7 linked regions of the Homo sapiens genome follow. The protein of the gene in region 1 purifies or fractionates together with the protein of each later gene. This does not show direct contact. Each region holds a gene or a part of one and is shown in the gene's direction. Other genes may lie near its edges.

Region 1 (4,763 bases):
TGAGACTCCATCTCAAAAAAAAAAAAAAATTTCTGATTTTCAATTGGTTGAAAGAAGTTATTATCCAAAGACTTGGAATCTTGGTATACAACAACAAAATTTTTTTTAAATAAAAAATTTTAAAAAAGACAACCTGGAATCAATAGAAATAAGCATCTGGGTTAAGATAAGGAGTTGTGGAGACCAAGGTTCTTTTTTTTTGAGACAGAGTCTCGCTCTGTCGCCAGGCTGGAGTGCCGTGGTGCGATCTCAGCTCACTGCAACCTCCACCTCCTGGGTTCAAGCGATTCTCCTGCCTCAGCCTCCCAAGTAGCTGAGACTACAGGCGTGTACCACCATGCCCAGCTAATTTTTGTATTTTTAGTAGAAACGGGGTTTCACCATGTTGGCCAAGAGGGTCTCTATCTCTTGACCTCGTGATCCTCCCACTTTGGCCTCCCAAAGTGCTGGCATTACAGATGTGAGCCGCTGCACCCGGCCCAAGGTTCTTATTATGTAACATAGATGGTAAATGTCTAAGGCGTTAAAAGGTGCCAGACTCTTAGTTAAATCTCCCTTAGATCAGGATAAAACCTGGAAAGAGGCTGGACGCGGTGGCTCATGCCTGTAATCCCAGCACTTTGGGAGGCCAAGGCAGGTGGATCACGAGGTCAGGAGTTCAAGACCAGCCTGGCCAAGATGGTGAAACCCTGTCTCTACTAAAAATAGAAAAATTATCTGGGCACAGTGGCAGGCACCTGTAATCCCAGCTACTTGGGAGGCTGAGGCAGGAGAATCGCTTGAACCCAGTGGGTGGAGGTTGCAGCACGCTACTGCACTCCAGCCTGGGCCACAGAGTGACTCTGTCTCAAAACAAAACAAAACAAAACAAAAAACCTGGAAAGGGGAGGGGATTCTCTACAGATTCTAGATTTTCCCCACAAAAGACAGCTTTTTGGAGCTATTTAAAAAAAAAATCAGAGGAATATATTTTGGGGGTAAAATACATTGATTTCTTTCAGGGCCTGCTATCTGTCAGGTGATGCTAGAGTCAGGTTGGAATTTGGTATCTTATTGCTACAAAGAGTCTGTTTTGTGTCTTAAGATCAGAATGCCTTAAGGTCTCTGTTTTAATGTTAATGCTGGTCAGTTGTGTCTGAATTCTAAAGGAAGGAGGGGGATAATGAGGCTTGTCCTAAACCTCTTCCCATCACAGCCTGAATTAATTTTTCAGGTTTATTTTGGAATGCCCTGGGCTGAGAGGGAGGTCCATTCAGTCGGTTGGGAGGCTTAGAATTTTATTTTTGCCTTACAGTTTCCCAAAACGTCCAGTGAACCTCGCCTCTCCTTTAGAAGTGTCGTCCCTGGAGCCCACGAAAATGTCTGCAAGATCTGCAAGGGCCACCTTAAAGCCCGTGCCACCTTAAGCAGGCCCCACCCCTGGCCTAGCCAATGGGCTGACAGCAGCAGTAGCTGCTGCCACAGTAGCTGACTGGTCACCCTGCCACCCAGTGCTCACACCCTCTGGCCAGTGCCTGGCTATGGCCCGACTGCTCAGGTCTGCAACCTGGGAGCTGTTCCCCTGGAGGGGCTACTGCTCCCAGAAGGCAAAGGTACCGGGAGAGAAGAGAAGTCCTCTGGAGGGATGAGGTGGGGAGCGGGGAGCAGGGGGTTCTGATCCCAAGTTTCCTGGGCTCTGTGACGCCCCAGCACCAAGTGACCTGACCTTGGGCAAAAGGGCACTGGGCTTACCCTGTGGCAACTGTGGGTGGGTGTAGAGTGAGATCAGCTGAGTCCCCACTGCTACCATGAGTGGGGCTGGGGGAGTCAAATGGATGCCCCTGGAATAAAACACACCTGTGGAAGAAGGCCCTGAAGGAAAGGGCCTGGGTTCCAGGCCAGGCTCTGTCCTTAACTTGGCCTCCATTTCTCATCTGTAAAATGGGAAGAAACACATCCCCCGCCCCGCCGCGCCCCGCCCCCCACGAAGGGCCCAGAAGCCCCAGGCAACGTAGAGTGGGGAGGGGGCAGTGGAAGCTTTTCCTCCCCCTAATTCCCTTATCAAGCTCTGAGTTCCCTGTGGCTGGGGTGGTGCTTGGTTGGCCCTGGAGAAAGGAGGAAGTGAGGGATCTTTTCGGTTGCTCAGGCTGGGCTGGCTATTGAAGGAACCCTGCTGATAGCCTTTTTGGAGAGTGAATTCTGGTTTTTTATTTGGATGGCTGGGCGCTGTGGCTCACGCCTGTAACCCCAGCACTTTGGGAGGCCGAGGCAGGTGGATCGCTTGAGCCCAGGAGTTTGAAACCATCCTGGGCAACATAGTAAGACCCTGTTTTTATTAAAAAAGAAAACATTAAAAAAATTCTGGTGGCGTTTTTTTCTGAGGGGAAACTTTGACCCCCAATGGCTCTGTTTGGAAAAGAGGCATTTCTGGATAGTGGGTTTGTTTAAAGTGGGCCCACCTGGCAAGGATGTTGTCAGCGGGGCGGGCGCAGGGGAGGCTCACTCCAGCCTCCAGCCCCCAGCCCTCCCCCCGACACTGGGGCAGGGCTGTGGCCCCATGTGTCTTTCGGGGGACCCTGGCAGTGTGTTTCTTCCCTGCAGGGAGAGCTCTGCAGGGACTTCGTAGAGGCTCTGAAGGCCGTGGTGGGCGGCTCCCACGTGTCCACTGCCGCGGTGGTCCGAGAGCAGCACGGGCGCGATGAGTCGGTGCACAGGTATGGGAGGGTTCGCGGGCCCCTCCCCTGTCTTCTGGATTCAACCCCAGCTGAGAGAGAGGGTGCTGGGTTGCCTTCCTCCTCACTCATCTGTTTTGGGGTGCTCTGGCATGTTCTCTGCCCCTCGCTTGCTGTAGCCTCAGGCCCTGCAACACCTCGGGACCAGAGGGTGTCACGCCCCGCTAAATCGCTGAGGGTCTGGTTCTAGGTGCGAACCTCCTGATGCTGTGGTGTGGCCCCAGAACGTGGAGCAGGTCAGCCGGCTGGCAGCCCTGTGCTATCGCCAAGGTGTGCCCATCATCCCATTCGGCACCGGCACCGGGCTTGAGGGTGGCGTCTGTGCTGTGCAGGTACAGTGGGGCTCCCTCGCCCGGCCCGAGGATGGTCCCAGCACACCTTGGCACACCTGTGGCTGCCTCCCCCGCCACACACGGCACCTTGGGTCTGCTCCCGCCCGTGGGCTGCCTGCCTCTGGGGGTCTGGTCTGGCTGCTGGGGGGACACCCGCGGGGTGTGGTCCGGGGACGTGGCCAGGTCAGAGACCCAGGTCTGCAGTGGTCTTAGCACCTGCCCCAACCAGGGCGGCGTCTGCGTTAACCTGACGCATATGGACCGAATCCTGGAGCTGAACCAGGAGGACTTCTCTGTGGTGGTGGAGCCAGGTGTCACCCGCAAAGCCCTCAACGCCCACCTGCGGGACAGCGGCCTCTGGTTTCCCGTGGGTAGGACTCGCGAACCTTTCCTGGGACCCTGAGGGCACCGTGGGAGCAGGGCTGTGTCTGGGGTTCAGGGGACCTTCCTCCCCCAGCCCGAGGGAAAGGACCTCCGGTCCCTGAGGCTGCCTTCTGTACGCCGCCCTCCAGACCCAGGCGCGGACGCCTCTCTCTGTGGCATGGCGGCCACCGGGGCGTCGGGGACCAACGCGGTCCGCTACGGCACCATGCGGGACAACGTGCTCAACCTGGAGGTGGTGCTGCCCGACGGGCGGCTGCTGCACACGGCGGGCCGAGGCCGGCATTTCCGGTGAGCGCCCTCTGCGGGGGGCCCGGGCTCTGGCCCTGGGCACTGCTGGCGGGCTGCCCTGCAGAGACCGGGCTGTGAAAAGCACCTCCTGGCGGCCCCCTGGTTTGGCAGGCTAGGCTTCCTCAGGCTCTGAAGCCCTGTCAGCTGGGCCAAAGTGGATGGGACCAGGGTTTGCTCTCCCTGCCTGAGGCCGACTGGCTTTGTGGAGCAGAAAGCACTGGGCCAGGGAAACTGGGCCCGAGGGAGGCCAGCCCAGACCTCAGTGCCTGGGGTCGGTGTCTTGGGTTCCAGCTTCGGCTTCTGGCCAGAAATCCCTCATCACACAGCCTGGTACTCACCTTGTGTGTCCCTGGGACGTAGGAAGAGTGCAGCCGGCTACAACCTCACGGGGCTCTTCGTGGGCTCCGAGGGGACGCTGGGCCTCATCACAGCCACCACCCTGCGCCTGCACCCTGCCCCTGAGGCCACAGTGGCCGCCACGTGTGCGTTCCCCAGTGTCCAGGCTGCTGTGGACAGCACTGTACACATCCTCCAGGCTGCAGTGCCCGTAGCCCGCATTGGTGAGCTGAGGATGGGGGCAGTCAGGGTGGGCTCCCTGGAAGAGGCCCCCTGGGAAGGCCAGGCCTCACCTGGCCTGCCATCTCCCTGGATCCAGAGTTCCTGGATGAAGTCATGATGGATGCCTGCAACAGGTACAGCAAGCTGAATTGCTTAGTGGCGCCCACACTCTTCCTGGAGTTCCATGGCTCCCAGCAGGCACTGGAGGAGCAGCTGCAGCGCACAGGTATGCTGGGGTGGAGTGGGGCAGCAGGGTGGGCTGCCTCAGTGGCGGCCCGGTGTCAGCCCCCCTTCCCCAACTGCAGAGGAGATAGTCCAGCAGAACGGAGCCTCTGACTTCTCCTGGGCCAAGGAGGCCGAGGAGCGCAGCCGGCTTTGGACAGCACGGCACAATGCCTGGTACGCAGCCCTGGCCACGCGGCCAGGCTGCAAGGTGAGCTGGGGCTGGGGTACAGATGGGGCCCACAGCTCGGCCCACAAACCCTTTCCT
Region 2 (3,971 bases), on another chromosome or scaffold:
TGCCACCTCCAGAACTTTTTCATCATCCTAAACTGAAACTCTGTACCCACTAAACAGTAACTCCCCACTCCCCCTGTCCCCAGTCCCTGGTAACCTCTATTCTACTTTTTTTTTTTCTCTGTGGATTGGCCTATTCTAGGTATCTCTTTTAAGTAGAATCATATAGTATTTGTCCTTTTGTGTCCAGCCCCCTCATTTTTTGAGATGAGGAATCAGGCCCAGAGAAGGCAGTGGCTCACCCAAGGTCACATCGCAAACCAGAGGCAGAGCCAAGACCAGAACCCAGGTTTCCTGACTCCTAACAGGTCTTGCATCCCCAGTAGTGAATGAGACACTGCTTTGACTTTCTGTAATCTTGGTTTAGCCCCTTCCTTTCTCTGGGCTCAGTCTGCTTCCCACCACTCACCCATTCTTTCTTTATCATCTCCCTCCAAAGCCTCTTGTCCTCCTGCCTCCTCTTCTCCTTGGCTGGTTCCTGCCAGCAAATGGAGTGGCCCTGGTCCATGCCAGGTTTTCCTCTTCTGGGTCCGGAGCTCACTATAGTATTCAGCCCTCAGTCCTCCCAGGATGTTCTTCCCAGCACTGCTGCCTCGTGCGGATTTTCCCGTAACCTCAGTAACTGGCTTCTTGTCCCCCTGCTTCCTACCAGGGAAGCCTTCCTGTCCGCGTCTGTGGTTTCCCAACTCTGATATTTGCTCTCAAATGTGGTGGTGTCCTGGTTCTGTGTTTATTTATTTTGTGTTTTCTCACACACACAAAAAAAAGCCTCTTCCTCCAATGCATCAGGAGGCACCAGCCCTGCCAGCCCTTCTCACTGGGCTCACCCTGCCCCAGCAACCCCCCGGTGCCACCCTTAAGCCACACTGTCTTCTCTGTAAGCAGCCTGCCAGCAGCAGCCCCAGCACTTTGCAATGGGCGTGTGTGTGGTGGTGGGTGGGGGGGGCTTGGATCCCTCCTTTTTCCTCCCCTGCCCTGCCCAGGCCCAGATGGCCTTGACTGTAAAGCAGGTGCTGCCTGACAGGTTCTTCTCTCCCTGTCTCTGGTCATTGATCCATCTCTTTGTCCATTCAGTATCCAACCATCCTCTCCATTCTCCTCTGGACCTCACCACTCTCAGAGCTGCTTGTCCTGGCAGAATCTACAGTTCACCCCAACTCTATGCCTTACCCCTCCCAACCCAACAGCATTTGCAGTTTGCAAAATATACAGACCCAAGTCCTGAGGGGACTGAGGACATGATGCTGGGCCCAAGTCTCCTGCTCAGGGCTTCTCTCCAATGCCAGCCCTGCCACTCCTTCCTCACCCTCCTTGGAGCCTCCTCTGCTGCTTGTCTATCCCAACGGCCCTGCTCCCCTCCCTTCCTGCCCTTCACCAGCTTTCTGGACACCATGCCCTGAGGAAGGGACCTTTGGTTTTCTCTAAACATCTTTGAAGGGCTGAGGCAGTCAGGGCTGGCTGCCTTGTCACTCTTTATTTGGAAGCCACTCAAACCATTCCCAAGAAGAGGGACCTCAGCTGGCAATCTGGAAACCTGGCCCAGGTCTGGGCAGATGTCTTCACTTCTCCTACCTTCCCAGTCTTGTGATCCTGTGATGAGCACCAGGATGGCCCTGTGGTCCCTAGAGCACCCCTCATGCTGTAGGGTCCTGCAGCCCCATCCTTTCTCTACTGGGCCCTGGTATCCTGGCTCCTCTCTCAGCTCTGCCACTGATCTCTGTGCCTTAGTTTACTTCTCTGCACGGGGGACTCACCCCAAGACCATTTCCAGCAGCTTCCCAGGTGATGTGGTGCCCCAAGGCTGGGCTTTGCCAGCTGTGGCCCAGCTCCTTAGTGCTGCCCAGGAGACACCAGGCTGCTCAGAATGAGGTGACTGCGGGCACCATTCTCAGCCAGTGGTTCTTGTATTGCATTCCAGCAGCAGGAATATCACCTGGGAACTTGATAGAAGTGCAGATTAGCAGCCCCACCCAAGACCCACTGAATTAGAGCTTGTGGAGTGGGGCCCTACAAGCTGGGGTTTTAAGGAGCCCTCCAAATGATTCTGACGCATAAGAATATGCCAACTGCTGATCTGGGCTAGCCATTAGTAGAGCCTGGGGAGGGACTGGGACTGGCTAGGCCAAGAACAGGTGGAAAACACCAGCCTTATCTGGACTCCTGAGATTGGGAACCACCACCAACAAAAACCAACCCTATAGTCGCTCCTCTTGGAAGAGGAAGAGAAGTTGAAGGGCCTGGAGAAAGCACACATTGTTTGTTTCCCTGCTCCTGCTCACCTCTCTCACTTGTCTTGGTTTTACAAAAGGCTGTGTGGATGGTGCCAGCCAGGGAGGGGGTGGGAGTCCTGGGGAGGCAGGAGGCAGAAGACCCTGACTGTTTCTCCCTTGGGAACCTCACCATAGGCCAGATAGCGCCTCTTCAAACTGAAAGAAATCTTAACTCCACAAAGAAAGCATCCTAAATCCCCAGTTCCTCCTCCTCCCAACCCCAGGGATACCTTGTAGACAGTGCCAAAAAACAGCTCCAACCCCCAGCAGCTGGGAAGAGAGCCAGAAGCTGCCCTTCCTCCTCATCCTGGCCCCTCCCCAGCCCCCGCCAATACTGTGAACCCCCTTCCCACTCAGCCTGGTTTCCTGGTGAGGGTCCTGCAGTCATGGGCCCTGGGGGACCCCCAGGGCAAGGCCCATGGGAGGGAAGGGACCAAGGGCATCCTTGGGCCAACTGTCCACCTCTCTTGTCCACTATTCTCTCCTTTCCACTTCTGTCTTCAAAAGGCTCCTTCCTAGGATGGATCGGGTGCTAGGACAACTGCAGTCCAATCCACCAGCTCTCCCTGCCCCTGTGTCTTATTTCAGACATGAGAATAACTGTACAGTGTAAACTTATAAAGCGTTTTTAATGGTTGTAGATTGGAAATAAAGTATGTCATATGAACAGCTGCTGTGGACTTGGCCTCCTCTCTGATTTTTCTAATGAGGTGGGTGGGGGCCCCAGCGGATCTGAAACCTAACTTTTCCCCACTCCCAGCTGCCTGGGAAGTGGGGAGCCCAGGGAGGCCACAGCCAGCTGGCTGGTTTGGAGTCACTTGGGAGGGGCCACCAGGTGTTCTGGCTGCTGCCTGCTGATACTTCAGCGTCTCCCACACAGTGTGATATGACCACTGAGAAACAAATGCAGTCTTCAAAAAGAAGAAAAATAGAATTGAACTTTTCTACAAAAGACTTTAACAATTTTATGAAAAAAAAAAAGACACTTTTAGGTGTGTGTCAATTGTCTATTGAAGCGTAATTAATTATTCCGAAACATTTATTATACCCCACAGATGCTATGGGTCAGGAATTTGGGAGCTGGGCAGTTCTGATTCAAGGTCTCAGGAGGTTGCAGTCAGTTGTCAGTCAGGCTACAGTCATTTGAATGCCTGATGAGCTGGAAGACCCATTTGCAAAGTAGCTACTTATGCCTGGCAAGTCATTGCTAGCTGTTTGCAGGAGGCCTCAGTTCCTCACCATGTGGACCTCTGTAGGCTGTTTGCGTGCCTTCACAACATGGCGTCTGGCTTCCTCCACAGCATGTGATCTATGAGAGAGCAGGGAGGAAGTCACAATGTCTTTTATAGCTAAGCCTTGAAACTCACAGACTAGGCCAGGCGCGGTGGCTCATGCCTGTAATCCCAGCACTTTGGGAGGCCGAGGCGGGCAGATCACCTGAGGTCGGGAGTTGGAGATCAGCCTGACCAACATAGAGAAACCCCATCTCTACTAAAAATACACAGTTAGCTGGGTGTGGTGGTGCATGCATGTAATCCCAGCTACTCGGGAGGCTGAGGCAGGAGAATCGCTTGAACTCAGGAGGCAGAGGTTGCTGTGAACCAAGATCGCGCCATTGCACTCCAGCCTGGGCAACAAGAGCAAAACTCCGTCTCAAAAAAAAAAAAAAAAGCCACAGACTATAATGTCTATAATGTCTGCAAT
Region 3 (3,405 bases), on another chromosome or scaffold:
AGATCGAGACCATCCTGGCTAACACGGTGAAACCCCGTCTCTACTAAAAATACAAAAAAAAATTAGCCGGGCTTGGTGGCGGGCGCCTGTAGTCCCAGCTACTCGGGAGGCTGAGGCAGGAGAATGGTGTTAACCCGGGAGGCAGAGCTTGCAGTGAGCCGAGATCGTGCCACTGCACTCCAGCCTGGGTGACAGAGCGACACTCCATCTCAAAAAAAAAAAAAAAAAAAAATAGAAAATGGAGATGTTATCATTAACATAATTCTTAACAGTATCATTTGACTTGTTTGTGAATGCTATGACCTCGGATTGCGATTCTGTTACTTAGTTCTCTTTCATAATCTTTGCTTTTCAAAAACAGGTTGTTAAGAGAGAGGACATTCAGCAGTTCTTTGAAGAGTTTCAGTCAAAAAAGAGAAGAAGAGTGGATGGGATGCAGTATTACTGCAGCTAGAGTGGAGTATGAAGCTTTCTCATTCAAGCCAATGAAAATGCGCTTCCCATTCTTGGAATAAAAGAGGTGTGGTTCACATTTGGCCCCCTTTCCGTCCTCCTCTGTTTGGAGAGGCCTCGCGCTCCCTTCATTCTCTTTAGCTGCAGTAGCCACCGTGTGGATGCTGACTTCACAGCCAGCGTCCTCTGTGACTCAGCTGATGCAGCTCATTCCACAGACTTCTCCAGTGTACTCCTACTCCAGTGCACCCAGGGTTATTTGCATAGTTTTTAAGTTTGATTTTGTTTTGAGAAAGCAAATTGGTGTCTTGTTTAATGATCTGTTATTTCACTCCCAGATGTGTGTGTTTTGCCACAGAGCTGTTGCCTTCCAGAACCTCCTCCGCAGGCATCACGGAAGGCTCTCTTCCCGTCACCTAGAACCTCTACAGGTCCCCTCGCCCCTATGATCGTGGTGCCTTGGGTCAAAGCTTCCTCAAGCCTGGTCTGCTCCTTCTTTCACGTCCCTGTTTTCTGAGGTTTGGTCATAGCTTAGAAAGGATCTTGGGGCTTGTTTTCTCTAGGCCCAACCTCCAGAGTAGCCAGGACTGATGGTTTTCTGGTCTGGATGTCTGTCACAGGCGGAGAGATTAACAGATGACAGGGTTGAGGAAGCAAGCCTTTGTTATGAATTTTACTAATACAGTTCAAGTGAAATTTTCGTTCATGATTCTATTGGCACTAGAATTAGAATTTCAGTACTGTAGTGCTCACAGGGCTTCCTGGAGAACATTTGCCCGTATACTAGTCCCTTCTCTGCTGCCTAGAAAACAGACCGGGTCTCACCCCTGTGAAATCTTGGTGGTTTACGAAGTCCTCTGGATTTCTTGATATTATCAGGGATATTCATAAGCATATATCAAAAATGGACCTATTTTGATATTCTGTTATGAAAATGTTATTAGAACCCCAATAAATTATTATTTTTCCCCCTTGAATCTGCTAAAGAAAACAGATCCTGACTTAGCTTACTTGAAATAAGCAGGGCAGGGAGCCCTGTTTTGGAAGAGACAGACTGTGGAAGAGATTACAAACAAGGCCCGAGGCTGCACGAATGATGAGTTTTGTGTATATAATGTTAATGTCCACCGCCACTTCCCTAACGACTATGAGATCTTTTTTTTGAAGATCCTCATGGAAGGTTGTACAGAGCCCCACATTTGAGGGGAAGTCCTTTCAGTTGATATGAGATCTCTTTAACACCCCTCAGTCTATGTAGGAAATGCCTTGTGATACATAGAGAACCCTCAGCTTCTCTCTGCCTCTGGAGGACCAAGGTCTTTCCTGACAGTCGGAGACACACCTTGATGTATGTTAATAAAAGCATTTCAGGCTGTGGGGCCACCATGTATATTAATACTCCTTATGTGTCCAGCATCTGTGTATTCATTCGAGTGCCCAATCCCTGGATGAGATGAACTAGGCCTTATAAAAAGTCAAAGCCTCAAAGAAATGGCACAACCATGTTCTTCGGCACTCAGGCTCCTAATTGCAGATCCTCACGAAGGGTGGTATGTGGAGCTGGAAGGTCTTGTGGCCACAGGACATGCTGGTGAGCCCTGAGCTGGCCTTGTGCAGAGGGCTCCGTTCAAAGGCTCGGGGTGTCTTTGAGGTTGTTTATCAAGCTGGGGAACTCTTCCAAGTCTGACAATGTTTCGAACCCTTTTTGCAAGGTTGCACTATTAGTATACCATCATGTCCGGAAAACTTTTAATCTTCTCAAATATCTGATGTAACTACCAGAAAGTCCCTTACTTCCTATGACCAATCAGGACCAAGTCTTGGAGGTGATGTGTTACATTACGTGCAGCACAATAGTACCGATCAGTTAACTCAGCGCTGAAGGGCTTGTTTTATGAAAGGTACTATTCCTTCTTTCACATTAACTGGAAACCTCTTTTTTTACCTGTTGTTCACAACTAGTTTTCTTATTGACTGTATTGGACTGTCTCTTCTTGTAGAGACTGATTTTGGCCAACATATTAATGCATGTTTTATGCAAAACACAAATATGATATTAGTTGCTTTTAAGGAGTTCTGGCATTGTATGTGCATTTTTGTAGAAATTGTTACTGGACTTATAATTACATACTTAACTCTGATCAGGTTTCTGTAAAATTTAAATAAAACCAATACAAAATAGTTGCTTTTCAGATTGTTTTTAGTATATTTAAGTCTACACAGCCTCCCTCTGCAGGTTTTAAGAAAATGCAGGCAGGGCGCGGTGGCTCACGCCTGTAATCCCAGCACTTTGAGAGGCCGAGGCAGGCAGATCACGAGGTCAGGAGATCGAGACCATCCTGGCTAACATGGTGAAACCCCATCTCTAATAAAAATACAAAGAATTAGCTGGGTGTGGTGGCGGGCGACTGTAGTCCCAGCTACTCGGGAGGCTGAGGCAGGAGAATGGCGTGAACCCGGGAGGCAGAGCTTGCAGTGAGCCGAGATCACGCCACTGCCCTCCAGCCTGGGCGACAGAGCGAGACTGTCTCAAAAAAAAAAAAAAAAGAAAAAATGCATAGAGCCGGGCATGGAGGTTCACGCCTGTAGTCCCAGCTACTTGGGAGGCTGATGCAGGAGGATTGCTTGAGCCCAGGAGTTGGAGGCTATAGAGTGCCGTGGTTGCACCTGTGAATAGCCAGCCACTCACTGCACTCCAGCCTGGGCAACAGAGTGAGACCTCATCCTTCAAAAGAAACGTAATGGTGTATTCTAACAGCTCTTCCTGCCCTGAGGTCCTGCCCTCAAAGCAGAGGGACTGGTTCACGACATTGGGTAGCTCATTATTCTGCTGTTCTGTAAAATGCAGCCTGATCCCAGGTCCCCCGAGCAGAGCTCCTTCATCCCCCCGACTTCACCATACCCCCTGGGGTCTAATAATTGGGGTCTAGATGAACAGCAGAACAAAGCAAT
Region 4 (4,175 bases), on another chromosome or scaffold:
GGAGGAAGGGAGTGCAATTGAAGTGAGTGGTGACAACCTGCAAGTGATAAGGGGGTGGGTATGGTAGATACATGAGAGAAGAGTACACAAGGTTTAGTGATTATGCTGTGGGAAGGGGAGGAACCAGAGGTGATTCTGAAGTTTGGAACTGAGCGACTGAGAGAATGATAAAAATAGGGAAATCAAAATTGGAAGTCAGTAGGGTATGGGATAGGGTAGGTCAGTGAGTAGCGTAGTTGATGGACATGAACAGGAAGAGTAGAACAGTGTCAGGAGGCTGAGGCCGGAGAATCACTTGAACCTGGGAAGCAGAGGTTGCAGTCAGCTGAGGTGGCGCCAGTGGACTCTGGCCTGGGGGACAGAGCAAGATTCTGTCTCAAAAAATTAAAAAAAAAAAAATGGACAAGAGAACAGGTTATATTGTAATTTAAGACTTAAAACCCCCCCTAAAAAAGCTTTTTTTTAAACAACCAGTTTTCAACATCCTAGCACCATGAAATTTTCCTTTTTGAATTCTTGGACAGATAGAAGTTTTGCCGTGGTATTGAGCTGTCTTATAGTCTCACGATATATAAGTGAATGCCGAGATGATAGAAAGTAATACCTTATATTAAAACTACTGATTAGAGTCTTCCATTTTTACCTCAGGAGAGCCAAAGGAAATCAACATTTGAATTGACTACCCAATGTCCTGCCCCTGTTTCTGTCCTGTAGCACTTAGGGTATGTTGCCTATTTCATTATATGTTAAATCCATGGCATCTCCATGAATTCCACAGCTCTTCCTGCCGGTTTTAATGCTATCCTTTTAGTTTTGTTCTTAGTTTAGAGAAAGATCTTTGTAATAAATTTGTTGGTCTGGTTGCTTAGCAGCTTGCTGTGATTATGTAGCTTGGAACAGATACTTGCCGTTTGAAAATCTTGGTTTCCGGCCCTGATTCAGGTATATGTTGCATCCAGGCTTGGAACTGAGAACTTTTTTTCTATTATAGCAATTATCATATGAGTATAAATGTATAATTCTGCAGCATTTAATATATAAAATATCTTCATGTTTATATATTCTTTTTTTTTTTTTTTTGAGACAGAGTCTTACTCTGGCACCCAGACTGGAGTGCAGTGGCACCATCTTAGCTTACTACAACCTCTGCCTCCCAGGTTCAAGCGATCCTCCTGCCTCAGCCTCCCAAGTAGCTGGAATTACAGGCACACATAACTGTGCCCAGCTAATTTTTGTGTTTTTAGAAGAGACGGGGTTTTGCCATGTTGGCTCAGGCTAGTCTCGAACTCCTGACCTCAAGTGATCCGCCCGCCTGGGCCTCCCAAAGTGCTGGGATTACAGGCGTGAGCTGCCGTGCCCAGCCTATGTTCATATATTCTTTGTCCTTTGTGCTTTTTTATATATTTTTTCTTGCTCTCATAGCTTGTGGTGCAATCTTGTAAACATTGCAAAATCACTAACCCTTCATAAGAGTTCTTAAAATTTTATTTAGGAAATAAGGACCTGGACTAGAATGTTGAAGCATTGGTTAAGAGAAACACAAGAATCCTTTAATGGTATTTCTGAGGACATTAAATTTCTAATAAAATTTGACTTTTTATTTCATTTCCTTGATAGTTTTCATAACATCCAGTTAATGTCTTTCTTTCTTGACTGTTAAGTGAAGATCTTATTTCCTCAAAGTGTTCCCAGTTAAAGTCTATTTGGAATAGAACCGCCTGTAACGACACTGTTTTTTCTATAGTATCAGCAGGCCTTTGAGGGGAAATACAAAGTCTGAAATTCACTATACAGGACACAGTAGCAAATGATTTTTGCTTTGCCCTTCGAACTGTGAAGGTGCTGTATTGTCTCTCTGATGCCAGAATGTGGTACAACATAATCCTTTGCCTCTACTTAGTATAAATTTATTAGACGTAGTTCCTGCACGCAGCCCAGCAGAGAGCCCTGTATTACAGAAATAATTCTTGTGCTGCTGAGCTGGCGATTTTCCCACTTAATCACTCATGTGACGTCATCTGTGCTTTTGGTAGGAAATGTGCTGACCATGTCCTGCATTTTAAAAGGCAGTTGCAACAGGGGCATTAGCTAAAAATGAAATTAAAAATAGATATTTTAAGTTACATTGTAGGTCTTCAAAGCCCACAAGGAATAAACTGGCAAAATTATTATATTAATCAATAGGCTTGACTTGAAGAACCACATTTTCTTGTTGGTCAGTCACTTGCTAATGAACTGACATGCTCTTTCCTATTTGTTTTCTGCTCCAAGTGATTGGAGGGGCTGTTATATTCAAAGGTCTGAAATGGTTTTCTAATTTTCAGATGAGTCTTAAACATTCCAAGTTTGTTTTTATAATAAGAATCACACAAAACATCTGTTGTTAGCTTGAGATTCTTATAATGGTAGTTATAAATGGAAGAGTCCAGATGTTGGTCACTAATGGCTGGATTGCTATAGAATCTTTTGTTGTGGGCGAGAAGGCAGGACCCCTAATGTATATTTGATTTCTTGGCAGAAAGATGGATACTATGATGCTGAATGTGCGGAATCTGTTTGAGCAGCTTGTGCGCCGGGTGGAGATTCTCAGTGAAGGAAATGAAGTCCGTAAGTCATTCTGAGCTGGCCTGTCCAAAGGAAAAACAGATTTCAAATTTGGGATTTTTACAAAGCTGAAGTATTTTCCAATCTTAAAGTTGTTTTCCATTTGGGTTACCTAAAAAGAAAGCAGTGATCACTTACGTGGTCAAAGCCTAATGGGCACTCATTCTAAATGGTCACTAAAATTCTTTTCTATAGCTGCTCTTAATAGGTTTTAGCCAGGCTTTTTTATTATCTTTATTTATTTATTTTTTTGAGATGGAGTCTCTCTCTGTCACCCAGGCTGGAGTGCAGTGGCGACATCTCGGCTCACTGCAACCTCTGCTCCCCGGGTTCAAGCGATTCCTTGTCTCAGCCTCTCGAGTAGCAGGGATTACAGACACACGCCACCACGCCCGGCTAATTTTTTGTATTTTTAGTAGAGACGGGATTTTGCCATGTTGCACAGGCTATTCTTGAACTTCTGACCTCAGGTGATCCGCCCGCCTCGGCCTCCCAAAGTGCTGGGATTACAGGCGTGAGCCACCGTGCCCGGCTGCTTTTTTATTATCAAGATTCTTTTTCCACTGAATAGTTGGCACTATTTTCTGTGCCATGAACTGGGAAAAATTTACTAGGATGTTGCTTTTTTCTTTAGAGTAGTAGTTGTCTTTTTTTTATCCTGGATTTTCTTTGTGTTCTATAAAGCATTTTCAGTTGAAGTGGGAAAAATTCATAATTTCTTCTTTTTTCTTTTTTTTTAAGAATCTCATTCTGTCACCCAGGTTGCGCCACCATGCCCAGCTACTTTAAAAAAAATTTTTTTTTAAATTTTTTTAATTTTTTTTTTATTTTTGAGATGGAGTCTTGCACTGTCACCCAGGCTGGAGTGCAGTGGTGCGATCTCGGCTCACTGCAAGCTCCGCCTCCTGGGTTCACGCCATTCTCCTGCCTCAGCCTCCTGAGTAGCTGGGACTACAGGCGCCCGCCACCACGTCCGGCTAATTTTTTTGTATTTTCAGTAGAGACGGGGTTTCGCTGTGTTAGCCAGGATGGTCTCGATCTCCTGACCTCGTGATCTGCCCGCCTCGGCCTCCCAAAGTGCTGGGATTACAGGCGTGAGCCACTGCGCCTGGCCTTAAAAATTTTTTGTAGAGATAAGGTCTCCCTATTTTACCCAGGCTAGTGTCCAACTCCTGGCCTCAAGCAGTCCTCTCACTTCTGCCTCCCAAAGTGATGAGATTATAGGCATGAGCCACCAGGCCCAGTCCATAATTTCTTTTTGAAGGAGATACTAGGCATTTGCTTTCACCTACTTCATATATTTGATGCTAAATAATTAAGGATTGAGAGCCAGGTTTGGTGGTTTGCACCTGTATTCCCAGCTACTCAGGAGGCTGAGGCAGAAGAATCACTTGAGGCCAGGAGTTTGAGACCAGCTTGGGCAACATAGCAAGACTGTCTCTGAAAATATTAGCGGTCGGGCATAGTGGCTCATGCTTGTAATCTTAGCACTTTGCAGGGCTGAGATGGGTGGATCGATTGAGTCCAGGAGTTTGAGACCAGCCTGGGCAACATGGCAAAACCCCATCTCT
Region 5 (4,175 bases), on another chromosome or scaffold:
GAGATGGAGTCTTGCTCTGTTGCCCAGGCTGGAGTACAGTGACACTATTTTGGCTCACTGCAACATCTGCCTTCTAGGTTCAAGCAATTCTCCTGCTTCAGCCTCCTGAGTAGCTGGGATTACAGGCGCATGCCACTATGCCCGGCTAATTTTTGTATTTTTAGTAGAGACGGGGTTTCACCATGTTGGACCAGGCTGGTCTCGAACACCTGACCTCAGGTGAATCGCCCGCCTTGGCCTCCCAAAGTGCTGGGATTACAGGCATGAGCCACTGCACCTGGCCCCACAAAATTTAATTATAGGTGTGAGCCACTGCACTTGGCCTAAAATCATTTTTAGTTATAAAAATAATACTAGGTCATGGTAAAAAAAATTAATTGAGTGTAGAACCTACAAAATGAAACTGGTAATACTCTTCCACCTCCTGCCAGCTCCACTAGTCCCACTCCCAGAGGGTATATATAGACATTATGAATCTTGCTTTTTAAAGTAAAGTTTTAAGTGGAAATTTTTTAAAAAGTTCCAGTCACTTGGAAAATATTCATAAGCAAATATTTCAGTACTATTTTTACTGTTTCTTAGATTTCTGCACCTAATGAATTTGATGTCATGTTTAAACTGGAAGTCCCCAGAATTCAACTAGAAGAATATTCCAACACTCGTGCATATTACTTTGTGAAATTTAAAAGAAATCCGAAAGAAAATCCTCTGAGTCAGTTTTTAGAAGGTGAAATATTATCAGCTTCTAAGATGCTGTCAAAGTTTAGGAAAATCATTAAGGAAGAAATTAACGACATTAAAGGTAAGACTTTTGCCTTTTGATTCTTAAAGGTTTAATTATACCTAGTAATTGCCAATGTACACTCCCATTCTCATGTTTCTTGACCTCTCTGCAGTAAGAAAAAGTGCAGTAGAGAGGTCAAGAAACATCAGTAGAGGAGTGTACATTGGCAATTACTTATAATATGATTACAAGATTATAAAGTACAGAAGGGTAGAGGTCTTTATCTATTTGTTCTCTAATGAATCCTAAATAACTAGAACACCTACACATTAGATAATCAATGAATATTGATTAAATTAAATGATTAAATTATATGAAATAATCAATGAATATTTATTAAATTGATGGATAAATGAATCTACACTCTCTGCCTAGGTATTTCATCCATTCCCAATGCCACCTATATGATGATGACTCCCAAATGTTTACTTGCAGCCCAAATATATCCTTTGCACTCCAAACCTATATCCAGCTACGTCCTTAACATATCCACTTTGATGTTGATGTACCACAGGAATCTATAACCAAACATATCCAAAGCGAATAAACATAACTTAATTCATATACCAAACTATGTTTTGCCTCAGTCCTTCCCATCTCAGAAAATGGCACAATCAATCCACCCAGACGCACCATCCAGAAACCTGGGAACCATCTTAATTTAATCCTCTCTGTTACCCCCTACGCTTAATCCAGATGCAAGTGCTGCTACAGCTTGGACCTGTCTGCTGCTTCAATCCCAGCACCCTACTCCCACCCCACCTAAGCTGCCACCATCTTTTACCTGAACTATTACATCATTTTCCTTTCTAATCTCCCTATTTGCCTTCTTATAATATCTGTCCTTAGAAGCCAGAGTAAATGTTTTAAAATACAAAGCCAGTCATTACTCTCTGATGAAAACCTGGCTTCTCAATGATCAGATAATAAAATCTGGTGCCAGGCGCAGTGGCTCACACCTGTAATCCCAGCACTTTGGGAGGCTGAGGTGCGTGGATCACCTGAGCTCAGGAGTTTGAGACCAGCCTGGCCAACATGGAGAAACCCCATCTCTACTAAAAATACAAAAATTAGCCGGGTGTGGTGGCACATGTCTGTAATCCCAGCTACTTGGGAGGCTGAGGCAGGAGAATTGCTTCAACCTGGGAGGCAGAGGTTGCAGTAAGCCGAGATCGGGGCATTGCACTCCAGCCTGAGTGACAAGAGCGAAACTCCATCTCAAAATAAAATAAAATTAAATTAAATTAAATTAAAATCTGGCCAGGCGCAGTGGCTCACACCTGTAATCCCAGCACTTTGGGAAGCTGAGGTAGGTATATCACGAGGTCAGGAGTTCAAGACCAGCCTGGCTAAGATGGTGAAACCCCATCTATACTAAAAATACAAAAATTAGCCAGGCGTGGTGGTGGATGCCTGTAATCCCAGCTACTCGGGAGGCTGAGGCAGGAGAATCGCTTGAACCCGAGAGGTGGAGGTTGCAGTGAGCCGAGATCGTGCCACTGCACTCCAGCCTGGGCGACAGAGCAAGACTCCGTCTCAAAAATAAAATGAAATCTAAAGTCCTTTTCAGGGTCTACAAGTCAGTACAGAATCTGGTCCCTGGCTGCCTCTTCAGCTTCATTTCATATAACTTCATCTTTTCCGAAAGAGTCTCTTTTTGTTCCTAGATCTTTCCAAGCTCTTTTTTTCTGCCTCAGGGCTTGGCTCCACCACCCCATTCCACCCTAATTGCTATCACTTTTCCCAGTTTATTCCCTTCAGAGCACTCACTGCAATTTGTGTTGTATGTTATTACGCTATTAGATTAAGAGCTTTATCTTGCAAGCACAGACGTACAATTAATAACAAATGGAAAAAATGATTATCTTGTATACTGGAAAGTAGTAAGTGCTGTTGTGAAGAAGTATAGCAAAGTGAGAGGGATCAGGAATGTGGGAGATGGAGGTGGGGGGGAAGTTGCAATGTTAAGTAGAGTGGTAAGAAGAGAATTCCATTAGAGTTTGGGAAGAGCCAGGCGCCGTGGCTCACGCCTGTAATCCCAACACTTTGGGAGGCCGAGGCGGGTGGATCACGAGGTCAGGAGTTCAAGACCAGCCTGGCCAAGATGGTGAAACCCCGTCTTGACTAAAAATACAAAAAACTAGCCGGGCGTGGTGGCGGGTGCCTGTAATCCCAGCTACTTGGGAGGCTGAGGCAGAGAATTTCTTGAACCCAGAAGGCGGAGGTTGCAGTGAGCTGAGACCGCGCCACTGAACTCCAGCCTGGGCGACAGAGTGAGACCCTGTCTCAGAAAAAAAAAAAAAAAAAAAAGAGTTTGGGAAGAAGAGAATGAACAAAAGGAGACTATGAGTGTTTTGTAGAAGGAGCGGTCAGTGTTTGGAATGCTACTGACATCCAGAAATCCAATGGATTTGTTCTTTGGTCTTGTGGGGTTGACAAGAGAAATGTCAGTGGGGTGATGGACACAGAGTGAAAAGGCAGGGTTGCAGTGGAGATAACATGTGTAGGCCACTCTAGAAAGTTCTGTCTGGGCTAACTGTGGTGTCTCAGCACTTTGGGAGGCCAAGGCAGAAGGATTGCTTGAGCCCAGGAGTTCAAGACCAGCCTGGGCAACAAAGTGAGAGTCCATCTCTACAAAAAAAAATTTTAGGCCAGGTATGGTGGCTCATGCCTGTAATCCCAGCACTTTGGGAGGCCAAGGTGGGCGGATCACAAGGTCAGGAGTTCAAGACCAGCCTGGCCAAGATGATGAAACCCCGTCTGTACTAAAAATACAAAAATTAGCCAGGCGTGGTGGCAGACACCTATAATCATAGCTACTCAGGAAGTTGAGGCAAAAGAATTGCTTGAGCCTGGGAGACAGAGGTTGCAGTGAGCTGAGATTGCGCCACTGCACTCCAGCCTGAGCGACAGAGCAAGACTGTCTCAGAAAAAAAAAAAAAAAAAAAGAAAGAAAAAAGAAAAAAACATTTTTTTAATTAGCCAGGAGTGGTGGCATGTGCCTGTGGTCCCAGCTACATACGATGCTGAGGCAAGAGGATTGCTTGAACCTAGGAGGTTGAGGCTGCAGTGAGCCATGTTCACGCTACTGCACTCCAGCCTGGGTGACAGAACGGGACCCTGTCTCAAAAAAAAAAAAAAGTTTGGGCTGGAAGGAAGCAGAAAGATGGGTGAGTATGGAGAGGAGGAAGATGTGGGGTGAAAGGAGAGGTATACCCTATAACCCTTTGTATGAATTTCAGAATAATCTAGCAGGGAGGGAGAGATGGCTGATGTAGGAGAGGAAATACTTGAAGAGCATGGTACTTGAGAAGTTGAGAAGGAAGGGATCCAGAGACTATGGGCAGAGGTGGCCTTTGAAAGGTAGATGGAGGGCCAGGCACAGTGGCTC
Region 6 (3,632 bases), on another chromosome or scaffold:
TTGCCCTAACCCAAATTGAAAAGTAGATTAAGTTTTAAAAATAAAATAAATAGGACCATTCCTGTCTCTCACCTGTCTCTGGCCTCCAGCCACTGAAGCTTTTCCTTTTATTGTTTATTCTGGGGAGGCAAGAGGTGCTGGTGGGCAGGGTGGTGACCACTGCCCATTTCTGAGTCCTGTCCCCATGCTCTTCCAGCTGGCATCCCGCTGCTCAGCAACAGCCCCACCCCGCTGGAGAGCAGGCTGGGTTACATGTCTGCCAGGTGAGCCTCCCTGGGGGCTGGTTGGGGTGGAACGTCATAGTCGAGCTGCTCACTGTGCCTCCCTGGGCAGGTGGACCTCTGAGGGGAGCAGACCTCCTGGTCTTACCCCAAGAAATCAGGCAGGCCTCTAGTCCACAGAGCTGTCCCCGCTTGCCTGGGTCTGAGGCGCCCCTCCATGACCAGGGGAAAGTCAAGTTCACACCGCCAAGGTCCCAGTGGGGAAGGGCTGGGCTTACCCTGCCAACCCCCTGAGGAAGCTGCCCTCTGGCCCCTGTGGGGAGGAGTCAGCCCCTGGTGGGACCCTGCCCCCGCCCCTCCCTCTAGCCCCTCCAGCCCCGGAGTCTGGCCTTTGTCTTTGCCCTTGAGCTCTTGTTTGCTTCCTGTGGCTCCCTTATTCCCCCAGTCCTGCTGAGCAACATCTGGAGTGAGAGGGACACCCTGTGGAGGAGACAGACGGGCAATTATTTAAACCTGTTATTAATTTTCCATTCATCTCATTCCTTGCCAAATGTTTTCCCCTCTCCCTCCCTTAGGCAGCTAACAGTGAGTACCCCCCACTAACCCTTTGGCCAACTTGAGAGCTGATGCTGGCCAAGGATTGAGTTGACAGAGGGGAGCGCTTTGCTGATGAGATTGGCGGGAGCAGGCGGATGTGGGAGCCCAGAGCCTTGTATCAGTAGCACCCAGCAAGGGGGCAGAGGGCCTCCACCACTTTCCCGTTTGGGAACTGTTCTGGAGGGGCAGATGTTTTGAAGCTTTGAATTGCTAGGGACCTCGGAGAAGCTGCTCTGGTAGCTGAGAGAAAGAGGGAGGAGGTGACAGATGTGATGGCCTCTGTGCATCCTCTGTCACTTCCGCGCCTCCTCTCTCCCCTCGCCATGCTCTCCTCTTCCTTCCCAGTGAGCAGCTCCGGCTCCTACAGCACTCCCATTCGCAAGTCCCTGAGGCGGGCAGCACCACCTTTCAGGGCATAATTGAGGCCAACCGGAGGTGGCTGGAACGTGTCAAGAATGACCCCAGGTTGTATCCTTTTACCTGGTTCCCAAACTGGGCTGGGCTGTGGGGACTGTGCTTGTGCCCTGAGGGGCTGAGGAGGATCCTGTTCAGCCTTTGACCCTTTCATGGCCCCTGCCTGGCTATGCCCAGCGACTGCAGTTTTCCTTCACCTTGTGGCCAGACCTCTCTTCTCGTCAACACCCAAGCCAAAAGCTACTTTGAGCCTCCTGCAGCTGGGCCTTGATGAGCACAACAGAGTGAAGGTGTATCGCTTCTGAGGCCCTGAGCAGGGGCTTGGGGCAGCCCAGCCTCTCCTCCACCCAGACCAAGTGCCTGAGGAGCTGCCTGCCTTCTTCCATCTGAGAAAGCACCCTCCTTCCCCCTTTGACTTGCAGGAGCCACCAGGGACCAGGGGGTTGAGTGGAACAGTAAAGCCACACATTCTGTGACTATATAACCTATCTCAGGCTAAAATGTGTGGACTCGTACGAGCTCTTGTCATTGACATGGCAAGCTGATGGCGTGCGGTGGCTGCGGGGTATCAGGGCCGGGAGCCCTTTGGGAGGAAGGGAGGCGTTAGAGGAGCTGCCTTCGGAGGCTCAGGGAGTCCCTTTGGAGCTGGTTGTTTCCTTGGCCCTGCAGCGCACTGCTCGGGGCTCCCAAGGAGGTTGTGTGTATGGTTCTTAATTCATCAGGACAAAGACCCCCAGCATGTGTGTACCCTGGGACCCGATTTCTCTGGGCCCACATCTATCTCCAATACCTCAGCCTCAGATCAGACCCTTTCTTTTTTGTCTTTCTTCTCTTAATTTTTAAATGCCTCTTTTCTTGAGCATTCCATCTCTCTTTTTGACCCTCTCAGGACTGGGCTTAGCTGTCCAGAGCCCTGCCGGAGGGTGCTGGGGGCTGTCCCTCTGCAGGCACTGTGTTTTCCTCAGGGGCTGTCCTCAGAACACCCCTCCTGCTCCCTGGGGCTCCTCAGGGAGCCATTTCAGCTGGAGTCTCAGGTCTCAAAAACAACTTCTCCAGGAGGCCAAAAAAAGACTGGGTTGGCTTCTGGTCCTCATGATGGCTTTTATCCTCCTGGGACACTTTGGGTATATTCATGGGCATTGTTTCCATCTGTCTTTTCTACCTGTGCCACCCCTGCCCTGATTCCACGGCTGCCTCAGGCAGGCAGGCAAGGAGCTAGGCCGGTGCCCGGCCCTGGCAGCAAGGGGTCTTTGTGCAGTTGGAGATGCTGCCGTTGTGGCAGAGCGTCCTGCAGCCCCGCTTCCATCAGCAGGCTCTGGGGTGGGGGCTTTGCAGGGGATGCTCTCTGATGTTTGTTCCGTTGTTTAAATAAAATGCACTTATTTTTGTTTTTTTTTTTGCAAGCTGTGGGGTTGCCCTTGCTTCTCTGACACACAAATTAACTCCTTCCGTCCTCCAACTCATTTCGTGGTCATGGAATAAGAAACTAAGATCCAACTGGCTGTTGATCTCCTCAGATGCCTTTTAAGCATCAGCCCACTACATAGAAAACTCCGTTTCATCATGTGTGCTTTGGGAATAGCTTATGTGGTGCACCAACTCTAGTGATAATCCTGGGTATTTTCTGCATCATTTAAATCTCTGCAGGTCCATTTTCTACAAGGCAGTCATGTAAATGTGTCTCCTTCTTTTGGGAGGCCTTTGCCTCCTTCCTGAGAAGGGAGGAAGGAAAAATGAATATTCATAGAACACTGCCCTATGTAGTATCTGATTTAATCATCGCAACAATGTAGATATTGATGTAGATATTTTCTCCTCTGTTTTTATGGACGAGGAAACCAAGGCTTAGAGAACCTTTACATGCCTGGGGTCCCCAGTAAAGTAGCTGAGCTCCCTACATGTGCAGTGTCCCCACACTCCATCCCTGCACCCCCAGAGCGCCGTCTTCCCTACTACCAGTCCTTGGGAAGTGCTGAATTCGCCATCTCTCCCTTTGCTCCTTCACAGCTCTCCCTCCTACCAGCCGGAGACCCATGGTGCCATTTCCCAAAGGCTGATTGGTGTTTTCCCCATGCAGACAAATGCAAGATGAGTCCCCCAAAGTCCCTAAGCTGGCAGTTAGCTGGGTTTTTCTGCTCCAGCGGTGTGAACAGCCTAAATACAGTCTTGGATTTGTAGCAACAGAATTTCTAGGAGAGCAAACCAAGATGGCCACATGACATGGATTTGTGTAAGAAAACCAGCCTAAGGACAAAGCATGCAAAATAACCCAGTTCTGTGTCCTAGCCACTTTCTGGGGGGAAGGAAGAAAGGAAAGAAGGGAGGGAAGGAGAAGCAAGCTAACATTTGTTGAGTGCTTTCTTTGTGCCAGGTGCTTTTCATATGTTATTGTTTATAATC
Region 7 (4,175 bases), on another chromosome or scaffold:
AGATCTGCAGATAATTTTTTTCTAAGAAAGTCTGACTTAGAATAATACTATATTTCTGTAGCTTAATTGATTTAACTGATGAGCTTCTTTGAGCATTTTTACTACTTTTTGCAAATAAGGTCTCAGAATAGCACCGTTTAGATAAAATGCCTAAGTAGGAATGACTTTTACATAATTCAGTGATGAATAATTAGAAAATAATCATATCAGATTCTTTCAGTTACGCAAAGTGATATATTGACATGGGGAATTTTCTGGTGTGACACAAGGCAGGTTTTCCTCTAGGAATATTTATAATTTTAAAACCTGTATGAAAACGATCAGTGGATTTGGATATGCAGTTTTAAACTTCAAAATTAACACCTTTTTATGGGTTATCATTAACCTGGTGATAATTTTACTAATTAATTGTGCCAGTTAAGCTAAAACAAATCTGTATTCTCATATTTTAGTTTGCATTGGGTGAATGACCTTCCTAGAGCACTTGAGCAGGTAAGAAAACTTATGTTCATTCAACTATCTTGTGTTATTTTCTTTATTGTTAGAAATCTACAGATGTTTCTATTTTCACATACTATTTACTTGTAGGTCTGACAGTTGGGAAAGAAATCGGTGAAATCATCTGGTGCCATTTGGCATATTAGTAGTACATTGGGCAACTCTCCTTTCCCTGAGAATTTAAGAAATCTAATTGTAGAGATAAGTTTTAAATATTTATGAAAAGCTTAGGAACTGTGCAAAATAATATTGAAATCATAAGACATTCTCTATGTAGATTTCTTCTTACCCTTAGTTGCCCATAAACTTTTTGCAAGTAGGAACCTACTTATTTATATTTGTATTTTCTCCATGCCTTATACTCAGAGAGTGCTAGGTAAGTTTTTATCGATTGACACGTATCAATAGACAGGTGAGAGGCAGGTAAAAAGTATGTGTTCAAAGGAGAGAACAAGATCCCTGTGGCTTGACATGGCCTAGAAAAGCTTCAAGAGGAAAGTACTTGAGCAGGGCCTTAGAGGGTAGGTAAAGTTTGGATTGGGAAGGCATTCTAAGAAGGCAGAATCACAGGATAGGTGGAGAGGCACAAGAGCTTCATCAGCATTAAGGAACAAAAAGGAAACCTGTTTGGAGGACTAGTATAGTGCTGGGAAGTGAGGTGTGATGTATTGGGACAGTATTTAGGAGGATTTGAGTGTCAGGTTGAGGAATTTGGAGTTTATGCAATTCAGAGCCACTGGAGCATTTTGAAGAGGAAAATGACATCATTATAAAGCTGGTGGGCAAAATAATAATGGCCATATCTGAACACGTATGATTTTCCAGTTTCCCGTTACTGTGCTCTGTTTTATATTTGTGTTAAATAGCTCTGCGAGATGTATTTATTTTGCTGATTAGAAACTGATGCCTCGGCTGGGCGTGGTGGCTCATGCCTGTAATCCCAGTACTTTGGGAGGCTGAGGTGGTTGCATCACCTGAGGTTAGGAGTTCGAGACCAGCCTGGCCAACATGGTGAAACCCCGCCTCTACTAAAAATACAAAAATTAGCCAGGTGTGGTGGCAGGTGCTTGTAATCCCAGCTACTTGGGATGCTGAGGCAGGAGATTCTCTTGAACACGGGAGGCAGAGGTTGCAGTGAGCTGAGATCACGCCATTGCACTCCAGCCTAGACGACAGAGTGAGACTCTGTCTCAAAAAAAAAAAAAAGAAAGAAACTGATGCCTGGAGCAGTTCGTTAAATTGAAGGGAGACTGTTTCAGTGGTCCAAGAATGAGATAAACTAAACCTAGGTGGTAATGGTAGGAGTTAAAAGGAAGAGTATTTAGGACTCTACAAGGAAAGAATCAACAGTTTGGTGACTGATTAGATCTGAAGATCAAAGGGAGGAGGCAAAACTCACTTTGAAGTTTTTGAGTCTGGATTAGTAAAAGTAGGGGAAAGAATGTTAATGATCAGATAAAGGGAATAGAAAATGGCAATAGAAATATGGCAGTTGGAAAGGGGAATTGATTTGATAAATAGATGTTTTCCTTGTAGGGGTTGGAGGGAGCAGGGACGGTGAGTATGCTGAGAGACAAATGTCCAGGGAATAGGCAGTTGAAGATGACTTTGGACTTCTGAGAAGATGGCCAAGCTGAAGTTAGGGATTGGAAAGTGGTCATTGTGAAATCATGGAAGTTGATAAGCTGTCTGAGGGAGAGCGGGGAGCTGCAGAATTCTGAGAACTAAGTCTTAGGTATTTGGTTTAGTAGAGTTTGATGACAGGAGGAGGAAGCAACACTAAAGGTGAAGAAGGGAAGGAACCAAAGCTTTTACAAATTATTTACTTAATACTGCTTTTAATTGCTTCATGACATATTAAATATAAATTTAAGACAGTACTTTTATTAGAAGAGCCTACTGTGATTTGGATTCTGGTTTACTTCAGAATCTACCTTTTCCTGTAATGGTCCTCATTGCTGAGAATAGTCAATCAAACTAGTTACAGCTTGTAGTCTGAGAGTGAGCAAAATCTGTGATTCTGGAATTCTCTCTGGCCATTATTTTCCTTAAGTTACTAATTAGAAATTGGTTTTGTTTTAAAGCTGGAAAATAAATTGATTACTTCTCTTTAACGAAAGGTAATATGTTACTAGGTTAATGCTGTGAATCATAATGATTTCTCTGTAGCTTTTTCTGCATAATAAGGCACCCCAACTTGATGGCTTAAAACAACAACTATGTAGCCCATGATTTTGTGGGTTGGCAGTTGGGGCTGGATTTGGTTAGGAAATCTGGGTCTGGCTTGGCTCATCTGTGTGTCTGTGATCAGCTGCCAGATCGTCTGGGAGCTAGCTGGTTTGGAGGGCCTCGGTGCACACAGCTGGCTGATCTCTGCCCTACATCTCTCCTCCTCCTCTAGGCTAGCTCAGGCTTGTTCACACATCGTGGCTGGGCTGGGCTCCAAGAGAGCAGGTGGAAGCATGCAACACATTTGAGACCTAGACGTGGAACTGGCACACTGTCACTTCCACTGCATTCTTTTGGCCAAAGCGAGTCACAAGGCCAGCCAAGATTCAAGGGGAGGGGAAATAGACTCCCTATCTTGATGAAAGTTGTTAGAAAACGACGTTTCAGAGGCCATAGATGCAGGGAGGTTTGTGATTTTTGCAGCCTACCCCAATTAAATTTTTTTTTCTCTTTCAGCATTTTTCTGATTATAAAACTAAGTTGTATACCTATTAGAAAACTTGAAAACATACAACATATTTTTATAGGCATTAATATTAGTGAATGTATAGTTGTCTTTCCAAGTATATTATGCATCATGATTTTCTGACAGTTGGTTGCATTAGATGTTATTTGTTAAATTATGTGATTATTAATTTGGCAGAATAAAAGTGGTTGTCATAAAATGTTAATTTAGACACTATATATTTATTTTTTAACATTTATATATATAAAAATTTGAATCATTTTGTTTTCTTGTATTTATTACAGATTCATTATATTTTAAAACCAGATGGAGTGTTTATCGGTGCAATGTTTGGAGGCGACACACTCTATGAACTTCGGTGTTCCTTACAGTTAGCGGAAACGGAAAGGGAAGGAGGATTTTCTCCACACATTTCTCCTTTCACTGCTGTCAATGACCTGGGACATCTGCTTGGGAGAGCTGGCTTTAATACTCTGACTGTGGTAACTATCAAGTTCGATTAACCCATAACTTACACAGTTCAAAAAAGAACTTCTTATCATTTTAAAGATAGAAAACTGTATGTGTTCATGGTTTCATGGCACTCTTTCTCTCCCTTTTTTTTTCTCTTTTTAAGGGAAAAGCTCTGATTGACAATGTTTAGTTTGTATAACACATCTTAATTGACACAAGGTAGGAATGTATAATTTTTTACTGTTACCTTAAAAAGTAGCTCAAAAAATGTATCATAGTTAACAAGACAAATTTCTAAACATACAACTCCATTAGAATCTTCAAATCTAGTATTAGGTGTAAAAAGGGCCTTAGAGTATTCCAGATGATAGGAAGAAAAGGGGATAAGTAGGGGAACCTGTAATATTACCACCAATAACTACCCCCAAACAGTGCCATATGAAGCAGAAATGAGAGAATGTGTGTTCTCAAGGCCTAGGGTGAGATCAAGGCTAAAGAAGGTAGGACAGGGTGCTGTACTCCATTAGGG

What was found.
Region 2: the proteins of LDHD (region 1) and MTCL2 purify together in Homo sapiens (affinity purification with mass spectrometry; one large-scale study listed by BioGRID and IntAct). This does not show direct contact.
Region 3: the proteins of LDHD (region 1) and UBR7 purify together in Homo sapiens (affinity purification with mass spectrometry; one large-scale study listed by BioGRID and IntAct). This does not show direct contact.
Region 4: the proteins of LDHD (region 1) and RACGAP1 purify together in Homo sapiens (affinity purification with mass spectrometry; one large-scale study listed by BioGRID and IntAct). This does not show direct contact.
Region 5: the proteins of LDHD (region 1) and CGAS purify together in Homo sapiens (affinity purification with mass spectrometry; one large-scale study listed by BioGRID and IntAct). This does not show direct contact.
Region 6: the proteins of LDHD (region 1) and CEP164 purify together in Homo sapiens (affinity purification with mass spectrometry; one large-scale study listed by BioGRID and IntAct). This does not show direct contact.
Region 7: the proteins of LDHD (region 1) and NDUFAF5 purify together in Homo sapiens (affinity purification with mass spectrometry; one large-scale study listed by BioGRID and IntAct). This does not show direct contact.

Annotation. Positions count from the first base shown.
Region 1 is NC_000016.10:75,113,478-75,118,240, reverse strand, and holds the start of LDHD (probable D-lactate dehydrogenase, mitochondrial isoform 2 precursor), read left to right. Parts: upstream 1-1,460; 5' UTR 1,461-1,520; coding exon 1,521-1,592; intron 1,593-2,580; coding exon 2,581-2,693; intron 2,694-2,901; coding exon 2,902-3,043; intron 3,044-3,272; coding exon 3,273-3,414; intron 3,415-3,555; coding exon 3,556-3,715; intron 3,716-4,006; coding exon of another isoform or gene 4,007-4,075; coding exon 4,076-4,275; intron 4,276-4,370; coding exon 4,371-4,499; intron 4,500-4,578; coding exon 4,579-4,706; intron 4,707-4,763. UniProt on the Homo sapiens protein: Involved in D-lactate, but not L-lactate catabolic process.
Region 2 is NC_000020.11:36,776,410-36,780,380, reverse strand, and holds the end of MTCL2 (microtubule cross-linking factor 2), read left to right. Parts: 3' UTR 1-2,549; coding exon of another isoform or gene 2,550-2,607; 3' UTR 2,608-2,934; downstream 2,935-3,971. UniProt on the Homo sapiens protein: Microtubule-associated factor that enables integration of the centrosomal and Golgi-associated microtubules on the Golgi membrane, supporting directional migration. Preferentially acts on the perinuclear microtubules accumulated around the Golgi.
Region 3 is NC_000014.9:93,226,582-93,229,986, forward strand, and holds the end of UBR7 (putative E3 ubiquitin-protein ligase UBR7), read left to right. Parts: intron 1-361; coding exon 362-454; 3' UTR 455-2,634; downstream 2,635-3,405. UniProt on the Homo sapiens protein: E3 ubiquitin-protein ligase which is a component of the N-end rule pathway. Recognizes and binds to proteins bearing specific N-terminal residues that are destabilizing according to the N-end rule, leading to their ubiquitination and subsequent degradation.
Region 4 is NC_000012.12:50,015,063-50,019,237, reverse strand, and holds part of RACGAP1 (rac GTPase-activating protein 1), read left to right. Parts: intron 1-648; exon of another isoform or gene 649-686; coding exon of another isoform or gene 687-722; intron 723-2,518; coding exon of another isoform or gene 2,519-2,522; coding exon 2,523-2,607; intron 2,608-4,175.
Region 5 is NC_000006.12:73,442,155-73,446,329, reverse strand, and holds part of CGAS (cyclic GMP-AMP synthase), read left to right. Parts: intron 1-582; coding exon 583-802; intron 803-4,175. UniProt on the Homo sapiens protein: Nucleotidyltransferase that catalyzes the formation of cyclic GMP-AMP (2',3'-cGAMP) from ATP and GTP and plays a key role in innate immunity.
Region 6 is NC_000011.10:117,410,632-117,414,263, forward strand, and holds the end of CEP164 (centrosomal protein of 164 kDa), read left to right. Parts: intron 1-196; coding exon 197-263; intron 264-666; coding exon of another isoform or gene 667-691; exon of another isoform or gene 692-1,163; coding exon 1,164-1,286; intron 1,287-1,440; coding exon 1,441-1,537; 3' UTR 1,538-2,635; downstream 2,636-3,632. UniProt on the Homo sapiens protein: Plays a role in microtubule organization and/or maintenance for the formation of primary cilia (PC), a microtubule-based structure that protrudes from the surface of epithelial cells. Plays a critical role in G2/M checkpoint and nuclear divisions.
Region 7 is NC_000020.11:13,798,009-13,802,183, forward strand, and holds part of NDUFAF5 (arginine-hydroxylase NDUFAF5, mitochondrial), read left to right. Parts: intron 1-452; coding exon 453-492; intron 493-3,477; coding exon 3,478-3,675; intron 3,676-3,809; coding exon of another isoform or gene 3,810-3,836; exon of another isoform or gene 3,837-3,865; intron 3,866-4,175. UniProt on the Homo sapiens protein: Arginine hydroxylase that mediates hydroxylation of 'Arg-111' of NDUFS7 and is involved in the assembly of mitochondrial NADH:ubiquinone oxidoreductase complex (complex I, MT-ND1) at early stages. May also have methyltransferase activity.